Homo sapiens: one gene and its partners. The protein of the gene in region 2 purifies or fractionates together with the protein of the main gene of each other region. This does not show direct contact. Each region holds a gene or a part of one and is shown on either strand. Other genes may lie near its edges.

Region 1 (3,747 bases), on a different chromosome or scaffold from region 2:
GGGCCCCCTTGTTTACATGCTTGGGAAAAGGTCCCTCAGAGGAGGCAGTGTCTTTCTTGCTTCCATGTATTATAGTTTATTAACTTTCTTTTTCACGCTCACTGGGGTTAAGGTGCGGAAAGCATTTCACAGGGAGTCTTAAAACCAAATTAGGATTGCCAGGTAAAGGCTGCACAAGGAAAATGCCTTATCTCTGAAGCCCAGAGCTGGCAGGGGAGGGCATGACCCAGGGACTCCACCCTCCTGCAAAGGGAAAGGGCATGCTGGAGAGGCATGGGGACCCACTCCAGCTCACTCTGGGTGCTGTCTGTAGTTCTGGAAGCTTGGTGGAGGATTTCCTGCTCAACTTAGAGGGTGGGCCAATGGGGCCAGGCCGGGGGAAGGTGAGGGTTGGAAGGCAGAAGGAAGTGACAAAGGCCACCTCAGCACAGCAGTGAGAGGAGCTGAGGCCAAGGGAGGCAGTCACACACCCTAGCTCTGCAAGACCTCCAAGATGGCCCGGAGGATGGCAGCAGCTGCCACCGCCCCGGGGTCTGGCTGCTCCAGCCGTGCTGAGCTGATATAACTGGCTCTTCCGGCTCCAGCTTCCATATTCTTGGTGGCCTCGGCTGCAGCTTCGGCACTCTGGGGGATGGGGTGTGGGAGCAGGTTCAAGGGCAGATCACCAGGCCGCCTCCTTCCTGCCATGGGCAGAACGTCTCTGCCGTGCAGCCTGGCCCTGCACGCCCTTGCCCTGGCTCTGCCAGCACCCTCTGCTCTGTCACCAAATGGAAAGTCACTTCTCATCTACTTCCAGCAGGGAAAAGGGTCACCATTCACTGAGGCCCTGTCACATCCCAGGCAGTGTGCGGGGCTCTACATATTTCCTTAGCCACATAACCACCTTCTGAGATAGGTGCTCATCTCCATTGTACAGAGAAGGAAACTGCGGTCCAGGAAGGTTATTAACTTGCTCAGGGTCACATGGAGACAGGAGTCTGCTGGCTAGAAGCCTGTCTCCCCAGGTGGCTGGGCCCAGCCTCACTCACCTTGACTGCTTTGGTCAGGACTTGTAACAGATCAGCTCCTGGGCTCTTCCAGGCTTGGAGCTCCTGCCCCGCTGCCCACAGAGAATCCAGCTGGACAAGGTGAAGGAAAGGGGGCTGAGCACGGGCCCTGCAACCGAGGGTGCTCTTTAGACTTACAGGGCCAAAAGGAGAAAGGTCTGAGGCCACAGCCTGAGTACATACCATAGTCCTGTCCCCTGGAGCAGCCTTGCCATACCTGGCAGGGAAAGAGAGTGAAAGAGGCTCACTATAGGGAACCAAGGGAATCACTCTGAGGGTTGGGCTAGGGCCTGGCAGGGCGCAGATGTCACCAAACACCTCCCCCAGCCCACCCCTGGTCTGATGCACAGGGCTCTGGCTCACTTCTGCATGGCTTCCAGGCCGGCATCCATGGCAGCAGACCAGGCTGGGAGGCTGGTCTTGGCCTTCAGGGGCTGTGCAGCCGCAGTCAGGAACAGGCCATAGAGCTGGGGAAGATGACAACGCTGAGCATGTGGTGCTGGCCTGGACCCCAGCCAGCCCAGCCACCTCCCTGTCAGCCCTTCAGCCCCCAGGCACCCACCGCCCCAGATGAGCCTCCCATCTTCTCCAGGAGCAGGACAGACAACTTGGAGAGCAGCTGGGCAGGGCTGGCAGGGGGTGGGCCCTCCTTCAGCCACTCCTGGATTGCTGCAGGCAGAGAGAGATGGGGAGGAATTCAGAGATCCTCCCTCCATCTGCCAGACTTCCAGCCAGCACCAATGAAGGCTGGAAAAGGCCGACAGGGAAGTGGAATGAAGGCTTCCCAAGATCCCTTTCCACATCCAGTGTGCAGTCTGGAGAGGGGCTGGGCTGCGTAACCGAAAGGGGCCTGGGGAGGTGAGGCCTGCCCCGAAGCCCTCCACTTGACGCTCTGTACTCTGCTCCCTGGCTTGGTTTTTTTCTCCTTAGCCCTTTGTGCTAACATCCTCTGTGTTTTACTGATTTATCTGGTTGACTGTCTTCCACCTAGAACATAAGCCATGAGGGCAGTGATTTCTGTCTGCTCTGTTCACTACTGTATCCACAGCTGAGAGCAGTGCCTGCCCCACGGCAGGCACCAAATACCTTTTTCTCGAATGAATGATGCTGGACAGTTAAGAGCTTTTCACTGGTCTGGGTAAACTGAGAAAAATAAGGACAACAGAATAAGTTCGCCTTGAGTTGTAAGTTATTCACTGTGAAGGATTTCATTTAATTCTAAGATAACAACCTCATACATTTGTGGTGTTAAGAAGGTCCCTGTCGGCCGGGTGTGGTGGCTCATGCCTGTAATCTCAGCACTTTGGGAGGCCAGGGCGAGCGGATGGCTTGAGGTGGGGAGTTAGAGACCAGCCTGGCCAACATGGCGAGACCCCGTCTCCACTAAAAACACAACAATTAGCCAGGCGTGGTGGCGCATGCCTGTTATCTCAGCTAGTCAGGAGGCTGAGGCAGGAAAATCACTTGAACCCGGGGGGCGGAGACTGCAGTGAGCCGAGATCACACCATTGCATACTCCAGCCTAGCGACAGAGTGAGATTCCTTCTTAAAAAAAAAAAAAAAAAAAAAGGAAGGTCCCTGCCTTCAGGGAAACAAGTGGAAGGGGGGCTAAGGTTTTGTGAATGACCTCACTTGGCAAAGTCCCTGGCACCAACCTCTGGCCGCACGGCTGTGGGTGGTGCCACAGTCGCCGTCACCAGCAGCCCGGTCCAGGGCATTCAGGTGTTCCTCCAGGCCCAGGAGAGTGCTGCACACCCGTTCCAGCACCAGCGCCATCCGCTTCGAGGCTGAGCCTAGAAAGGGAGGATGCTGAAGAACAGGCCCACCAGGCCCTTCTCACAACCACACTTGACTATGGTGGGAGGTGTGGGTGCCAGGGCCCCTACCCGCCCCACCGTATACTCCTGCATCCTTTGGGAAGCCTGTCCCTTCCCCAAAGGCAGGGGTTGGTACCTCCTGCAGCAGTGGAATCAGGGGCCTCCTGGGGCTCGGCAGGGGCTACCCGGCTCCGCTTCCGCCCAGTAATGGAGACTGCAGCCACGTTAGGCCAGGCTGCTGCAGTGGTTTCAGCATCTAAGGGCAGCAAGATAACTCTCTTAGACACGGCTGTCCAGCCAGGGATTCAGCAGGGCTTGGACCCTCCCATCCTGACCCTGGTGGCCTGGCTTTCTCAGCAGCCCTGGAGGAAGGGAGTCCACCTCGACAAGCATGGACTGAGTGCCTACTGTATACAGGGGTATGGAGAGAGGGTCCCTGGGAAAGGGTCAGGCCTCTCTGAGGAGGATCCTAATACCAACTCCTTCTAGTCCAGTGAGAGCTGGAGAAGGCTGGAGAAGCCCAGGAAGAGCCTTCTTCACAGGCTCCAGAGCCCTGATTGTCACGGTCAGCCCTGACGGGGTCTCCAAGTCTCCCTGGCTCCTTCCAGTTACAAGGAGCCCTGGCTTGGGTGACCCCAGGTTCCAAGTCTCACCTATCAGTTTCAGGAGAGGCTCATCCACCAGCAGGAGGGTGAGAGAAATGCCAGGCATCTCCAGTGCTGACATGAAGGTGCCCACCAGGGCACGGGCAATCTTCACCCCGCGGCCCTCTGCAATACCAGAGTGTGGCAGTCCAAAAGGGAAAAATGGGCATCAGGGAAAGAAAACAACAGAAAAGCAAGGACCTTGGAAGCTGGGGCTCTGAGGTCGGGAGGGAGATGTCC
Region 2 (3,747 bases):
ACTCATTAGAAACCCAGTGACAATGCTTATTGGATGTCACTGAGATAGGTCCAAATGAAGGATAGTTATTGAGTGCTGAGGCAATACCTTGTTTTAAAAGGAAGGGGCAGAGCAAGTGACTCCTATCAAAATGTTACCCCAACAAAGACAACTAATGAACAAAGGGAAAGGGCAATTATGCAGGTCTGTTACAGGCAGCTAGGGGACTCCTTGCTAACCATAGGATCTCTTTGGTTGTGCCCTATAGAGGAAAAGCAGCTCCATATTCTGATCAACAATGCGGGAGTAATGATGTGTCCATATTCCAAGACAGCTGATGGCTTTGAAACCCACCTGGGAGTCAACCACCTGGGTAAGTATCTTTGGGTGACTAAAAAATGAGGTACACCCACTATCTTTTCTTTAGGAAGATGACACTGTGTAAATGTGGAGAATGTCCAGGGGCCTTCATAGAGCCTAGGAATTCCAATAGACTAGACCCATTGGCTTGTTGTTCACTGTACCTCTCCTGATCAGTCTAAAAAAGTGAGATCTTCCTACCCATACCATTAAGAAGCCCCAAATTTCAGGAAATACCAGGGAGAAGAATGTCATTCTTGGATGGGGCAGTGGCAGTACAAGGCTTGCCAGGCAGGGCCAGACCTGGGGTTATGCAGGCATCTGGGCTTGGCTGGAGGGGTCACATCTACATGATGGCCAACCAAGCCATGGGTTGGTCCACGGAGGTAGGCAATCCTTGAGAACTTGAGTACGAGGCAGGGTGGGGTTCAGCGTTCAAGGCAAAGACTTTAGGGAGGAGAGCATGGAGCATGTTTTCTGATCCTAAGCAAATGTTATCTTCCCTGACTGTTCTATCCTTCTGCCTATACACAAGTGTACCTGGGTCCCTAGTTATGCGATCATGGCCAGAGTGGGAGTTGGAAGCCAGCAGGTGGGTCAAGGGCAGAGGTACAAAGTAATATAATTAAGTATGATTGCCTTACTTGTAGTCTAGCTCTGGCTCTTGCTTTGAGGAATCCACAAACTCAGACCAAACTGACCATTAGAGTTACTCATGGCATCAAAATTGGTTCACACCCAGAAGATAGTGAGCTAACACTGAAGTCCTCTTGGCTCCCACATGCTGAGCCTGGGCTGTCATTCCACTTTCAATCTTCCCTGCTGGCTCTCCTCACAGGCCACTTCCTCCTCACCTACCTGCTCCTGGAGCGGCTAAAGGTGTCTGCCCCTGCACGGGTGGTTAATGTGTCCTCGGTGGCTCACCACATTGGCAAGATTCCCTTCCACGACCTCCAGAGCGAGAAGCGCTACAGCAGGGGTTTTGCCTATTGCCACAGCAAGCTGGCCAATGTGCTTTTTACTCGTGAGCTGGCCAAGAGGCTCCAAGGTAAGTCTGGAGAAAGAGGAATAGCAAAAATGGTCCTCAGACCAAATTAGAGGTCCACAGCAACTTGGGAAGTCAGGCTGTCAAACATGCACGTGTCAGTAATATCTCTGTGGACTAAGGAGAATGAAATTATGAATGGAATAAAAACAGAGTGCTTGCCCCCAGGGAGCTTAAAATCAAATAGGGGTTAAGAACCTCAAAAAGTTACCTTGTATTTGTGTCACATCTTATCTCTTATCTCATTTGATTTTCACAGTAGCTTTTTGCAACAGACAGAGGCTTTTTGTTTTTTTTGTTTTTTTTTTTTTGAGACTTGAGTTTCGCTCTTGTCGCCCAGGCTGGAGTGCAGTAGTGCGATCTTGGCTCACTGCGACCTCTGCCTCCTGGGTTCAAGTGATTCTCCTGCATCAGCCTCTTGAGTAGTTGGGATTACAAGCACGCAATATCACGCCTGGCTAATTTTGTATTTTTAGAAGAGACGAGCTTTCACCATGTTGTCCAGGTTGGTCTCAAACTCCTGACCTCAGGTGATCTGGCAGAAGAGGCCTTTGGTAACAGGTATTATTACTCCTAGTTTATAGAGCAGAGCTGAGGTCCAAGGAAATGGCCAGCTAAAGAGTATATGGCAGGTGAGGGCATCAGAACCGGAATGTGGGTGCTCAGCTTTAAACCTAGGGTGCTTCCTTCTGGGTGCCATTTGCTGAGGTCCACATGGTGATCTGAGCTACAGAGCTGCCACTGCCTGGACTCAGGGAGTTAGGGCTGGATTTCAGACCCCTGGGTCCAAGTTCTTGCTCTACCACATGCTAGCCGCATGTGGATGTGGATGTGGATGTGCCCCTTTAACCTCCCCTGACTTCATCTTCTCAGCTGTAAAATCAGGTCAGGCTGGTTCTTATTCCTTAATGATTCTGTGCTCTCCTGGAGCACTGGGTGAGCTGCTGGCTCTGACATCTGCGGATCTAGGGGTCCATTTGTTACAGTGAATAAGCCAGAGTTTGGGAACAATGATCTTCACTTCCAGAATGCCTACAGTAGAAGAAGACGGTAATCATAAAAATAAACAATAACTATTACAATAATAATTGAGAGGTTTATGTGTGCCATGTACTACACATCTTAACTCATTTAATACTTGCAACATTCCTGTGAGGTGGGTGCTATTATTTTCCCCCACTCTAAATATGAAAAGACAGGCACTGACAGATTAAGAAATTTGCCCAAGGAAGGTTCCTAGCTGAGCCAGGATTCAAATGCAGACAGTCCATTCCATGTTTTTAACTTTACATCAGAGTTCAGACCTTGGCCCTGCACCCTGCCAGGTATAACCTTAGGCAATTTACTTAAACTTTCTGTGACTTAGTTTTCTTTGTTGTAAATGGGTATCATAACATAATATTCTATTTTACAAGCCTCTTTAAGAATTAAATGAAATAATACATTTAAAGCATGTTGTATGGCCCTGGCACATAATTGGTACTGAAAAATAGTGACCGCACCAGGGATATCTTGTGGGGGGGGGGTGTTAATCCCCCACAATCTGCATCACCATCCCTCAATCTATACCTCATGAAATGTGCTTGCCAGGCAAATGCAGCTCAAAATAAAGTCCTACCCACCACCTTCCAATCAGATCGCTACCCCTAAACTCCTCCTTTAGAAATGATAAAGATACCACTGTCAATGATTGATACTACTCACTACATGTTGTCATGTTTATTAGTAGTACTAAAGCCACAGTATAAAAACGACATTGAAATAGAAGGACCTCGAACCAGGCACTCCTTTTGGAACATAGAAGGCTGAGAAGGCTATAGATCTTTCTGAAAGATCAATTCATTCCTGTTCAAATTCCGCCTGGCCAGGAGTGGTACCTGCTGAATCCTGGGGTTATGTTTCCTGAGTCCCTCCTTCTCACTTGTGTATTTTGCTGCAGGAGATAAGCTGTTTTCCTGGGCTCAGAGTGTGTCCCTGATCTAATTGTGCCCTCTTTGTCCCAGGCACCGGGGTCACCACCTACGCAGTGCACCCAGGCGTCGTCCGCTCTGAGCTGGTCCGGCACTCCTCCCTGCTCTGCCTGCTCTGGCGGCTCTTCTCCCCCTTTGTCAAGACGGCACGGGAGGGGGCGCAGACCAGCCTGCACTGCGCCCTGGCTGAGGGCCTGGAGCCCCTGAGTGGCAAGTACTTCAGGTGTGTGAAGGCAATGCGGTTCTCTCCACCACCTGTGTGCATGGGAGGTGCCGGACTCGCTGGGCTGTTCATCCTGAGAAGCTGAGTTTGTGCCTGATGATGCAATCCAGGTTTGGGTTGGGCCTGCAAACAGAATGCCGTTGCTTTGTTAAGGAAACTTACAGTACAAA
Region 3 (3,747 bases), on a different chromosome or scaffold from region 2:
TAGGAAGGAGGGGGTGCAGAGGGATATTAATCATGGTCATTAAGTCTCAAAACATTTCTACTTCAAGTGAATACATTAACCATGCTGAGGCAGTTGAACAACTGAATGCGTAGTTTTTCCTCCTTTGGTTTGGGCTCCTTGCCTGAAGTGTCTGGAGAATGGCTGACCTGGTCCTTACTGGTTTTTCTTTTGATGAGAGTCAGTCCCCACGTTGATCCTCAGCCTATTCACAGTTGCTTTTCTTTTCATTTCTTTTCTCTTTTTTTGGGAGATGGAGTCTCATTCTGTTGCCCAGGCTGGAGTGCAGGGGCACGATCATGGCTCACTGCAGCCTCGAACTCCTGGGCTCAAATGATCCTCCCACCTCAGCCTCCCAAGTAGCTGGGACTATAGGCATGCATCACCACGCCTGGCTAATTTTTTTATTTTTTGTAGAGACGAGGTTTTGCCATGTTGCCCAGGTTCACAGTTGTTTTTCTGAAGTATATTTTACCCAAAGACTTGAATTGATGTCATAAGGCCCCAAAATGAACATTTATTATTTTATTTTATTTTATTTTTTTGAGACGGAGTTTCACTCTTATTGCCCAGGCTGGAGTGCAATGGCGCCATCTCAGGTCACTGCAACCTTTGCCTCCCGGGTTCAAGCAATTCTCCTGCCTCAGCCTCCCAAAGTGCTGGGATTACAGGCATGCGCCACCATGCCTGGCTAATTTTGTATTTTTAGTAGAGACGAGGTTTCTCCATGTTGGGCTGGTTGGTCTCGAATTCCCGACCTCGGGTGATCCACCTGCCTCAGGCTCCCAAAGTGCTGGGATTACGGGCTTGAGCCACCACACCTGGCCTCAAAATGAACATCTGAAGCAACGAAGTCACAGAAAAATGCACTATTTATCTAGGTAATGGAGATGATGTCTTTTGCCAGAGAAAGCAGGCGCACGCAGATGAGAGTGTCTGGATTCCTTTTTGTCTTCATAAAGCGAATCTTGGACTGAAAAACAGTCCAAGAGCTGTTGGAGCTGCCGGGCCAGCTCTAATGAGGCGCCCAGGCAAGCACTCATGGGCCCCACAGGTACCACGCAATTGAACCCTTGTTTGTCTGATAACTTGCAGTGACGTTTATGACATGTGCTGTCTCCACATCTCTTTACCCCTTGGATTTCTCTAGGATGACTGAGGGACGTGGCTGCCTCTGGGGGCACCAGCACCTTCTGTAGCATTGTGGAACATTTCTTCCATGAACTTCTACTCTGGAGCTGGAGAGAACAGTCTGCCAAGTCTTACCTGGTTCTTCCCCATAGCCACCTTGGAATACTCTTTGAACAAGCTCTGCTAAAACCAAACCCATGACCACTGTGTTGGTGGTGGGGCCTCATGCTGTGGCTCAGGGAGGGCCCCTCCCTGCATGTGAGTCTAGCCTTCCTAGACATTACATGATGACCCTTTAAAAAAAAATTAGAGATGGAGGTCTCACTATGTTGCCCAGGCTGATCTCAAACTCCTGGACTCAAGCGATCCACCCCCCTCCACCTCCCAAGGTGTTGGGATTACAGGCGTGAGCCACTGCACCCAGCCTCATGTTGACCCTGGCCCTGGATAGCAGCTTTGTTTGTAGAGGCAGGTGGTGGGAGAGACCCTAGGACAGCCTGAGAGTAACTGGACCTGGTATTGGTGCGGAGTGGGGAATATCCCTTGTCTAAATGCAGAGCAGCTGAGAGAAGTTAGCGGGGCTCTTCCTCCGTTCTCATTGTTTCCTGCTTTCCTTCCCCACCCACCCCTTCCTCAGCACTCTGTGTTGTAGCCTGTACTATCCTGCTTCAAGCCTCCGTGTCCCTTGTACCTTCCCCCTACCTTGAGTTGCCAGTTCTTTACTCCCTCAAATGTTCCCATGCCACCTCTGGGGTTTCTGTTATCTGACATCCCTGGCTGCTTTCCTGGTAGATGCCATTCCCAGAGAGGCCAACAGCGTTCCCAGGCGTGGCTGGCTGGTCCGCATCTCTCAGACTCACTCTGCCAGGCTACAGTTTTGAGAATACCTTTTTTGTTGTTGTTTTGTACCTGGAGAACTTTTTATGAATGAGTAAATCTTCAGAAAGGAATTCCTCCACCCTTACTGGGTTATTGTCAGGTGTAAACGGCCTTTCAGCTGAGCAATGTTCCTATGAGAAGGAAGCCATTTCTCTTGGCTCATGAACACTGCCTTTTGGGTAGTATACCCACACCCAGATCTGTGAAGAGACCTGGAATTGAAGTCTCCATGTCGTCAGGACTTGGTGGCATGTGGATCTTGCTTGACTTGGGAAAAGAGAGGGTGGTGGTGAACTAATAATTATGGAGTCCCCCTAATGTGTCGAACACAATGCTAGATGATTTCCATGATAATAATTACTCATACTTGTGCTAAGCACTTGCGATATCGTACTTCTCACAACAGTCCATGAGGTACTGATTATTATTCCCATTTTCTCATGAGACTAAAGCTCAGAGCTCTAGGATAGTATACAGTGGCAAGAGGAATTTACATCCAAGCACTCAGATTTCAAAGCCCACATTCTTAACTACCGGACTATTCATATTACAGAGCAGGAAAAGGGTCTCAGACAGGTTAAGCAACCTGCCCAGAGTCACACAGCTAATGAGTAGCAGAATCAGGATTCAAACCCAGAGCTGTCAAAAGCAAACCTTATGTTCCTTCCACTGTCCCCTGCTTCCTTGCCCTTCAGAAAGGTCTTGGAAACAGGGGCCAGAGGATGTGGTAGCCACTTCACTGGTGTTCTGTGTCTGAATGGGACTTTCTCACAGGCAGGCCATGCTGGGACCTCAGCCATGGGGGTGGCCAGGGAGGTGGTTGAGCAGAAGGATAGCTGGGGACACTGACTGGGGGTAGAGTCACCCAGTGTCTTTAGACATCCTGCTGTCTAAAGCACTGTGTCCAAAGGGTATGGCACACTTATATGGACAGGTCACCATTCCAAACAAGGAGGCCCAGTGTGTCAATAGGAGAGGTCCTAAAGCAACAAAAAGGGCGGGGTGTCTTGGATGGGCTTCAGGAAGGGAAAGACCATTGTGTCTGGAGCTCAGAGAATGGGGGCTGGTGTTTGAGATGAGGCTGGAGATTGGGCATGGCATCCTCACGCATGTTAAGGAATTGGGGACTTTATCCTTAACATCCTGGAAGCCAGTGATCCCATGGAGAGTGAGAAGATCTGATCTGTGTTTCAAAGGTCACTTGACTGCCGAGCAGCTGGAGGCGAGTTGCTCCTTTAGGAGACTGCTGCAGTTGCCTGGGTGAGAGGCTAGAGGGGTCTGGTCTATAGCAGTGGCAGGGGAGATGGAAAGAAGAGAATGATTTGAGGGGCATTCGGGGGGCAAAATCAACAGGACCTGGGGGGAGACGAAGGGATCAAGAATGATGCCCAGATTCTGGGTGAGTGGCAGTGCTGTGGTGCACAAGTAGTGATGTTATGTTTCCGGGTGACCTGCTGTTTAGCAGGAGCCCAGCCTGTGGCTAAGAAGTATAGAGAACTGAAACTAGCTCCCTAGGGATGGGAAAACCAAGTGGGCTGAGGATAAGAACAGGGCCCCAGGGCTGGGTGCAGTCGCTCACGCCTGTAATCTTAGCACTTTGGGAGGCCGAGGTGGGCGGATCACTTGAGGTCAGGAGTTCGAAACCAGCCTGATCAACACAGTGAAACCCCGTCTCTACCAAAAAATACAAAAATTACCCGGACATGGTGGCACATGCCT

The links.
Region 1: the proteins of RDH12 (region 2) and TKFC purify together in Homo sapiens (affinity purification with mass spectrometry; 3 studies listed by BioGRID and IntAct, with this or other methods). This does not show direct contact.
Region 3: the proteins of RDH12 (region 2) and ARPIN purify together in Homo sapiens (affinity purification with mass spectrometry; 3 studies listed by BioGRID and IntAct, with this or other methods). This does not show direct contact.

Annotation. Positions count from the first base shown.
Region 1 is NC_000011.10:61,343,228-61,346,974, reverse strand, and holds part of TKFC (triokinase/FMN cyclase), read right to left. Parts: intron 3,634-3,747; coding exon 3,517-3,633; intron 3,120-3,516; coding exon 3,000-3,119; intron 2,840-2,999; coding exon 2,702-2,839; intron 1,716-2,701; coding exon 1,609-1,715; intron 1,514-1,608; coding exon 1,410-1,513; intron 1,264-1,409; coding exon 1,230-1,263; intron 1,119-1,229; coding exon 1,029-1,118; intron 681-1,028; coding exon of another isoform or gene 651-680; exon of another isoform or gene 625-650; coding exon 472-624; 3' UTR 1-471.
Region 2 is NC_000014.9:67,725,804-67,729,550, forward strand, and holds part of RDH12 (retinol dehydrogenase 12), read left to right. Parts: intron 1-247; coding exon 248-352; intron 353-1,177; coding exon 1,178-1,387; intron 1,388-3,088; exon of another isoform or gene 3,089-3,387; coding exon 3,388-3,577; exon of another isoform or gene 3,578-3,747. UniProt on the Homo sapiens protein: Retinoids dehydrogenase/reductase with a clear preference for NADP. Displays high activity towards 9-cis, 11-cis and all-trans-retinal. Shows very weak activity towards 13-cis-retinol.
Region 3 is NC_000015.10:89,899,225-89,902,971, reverse strand, and holds part of ARPIN (arpin), read left to right. Parts: intron 1-1,168; coding exon 1,169-1,177; 3' UTR 1,178-3,747. UniProt on the Homo sapiens protein: Regulates actin polymerization by inhibiting the actin-nucleating activity of the Arp2/3 complex; the function is competitive with nucleation promoting factors.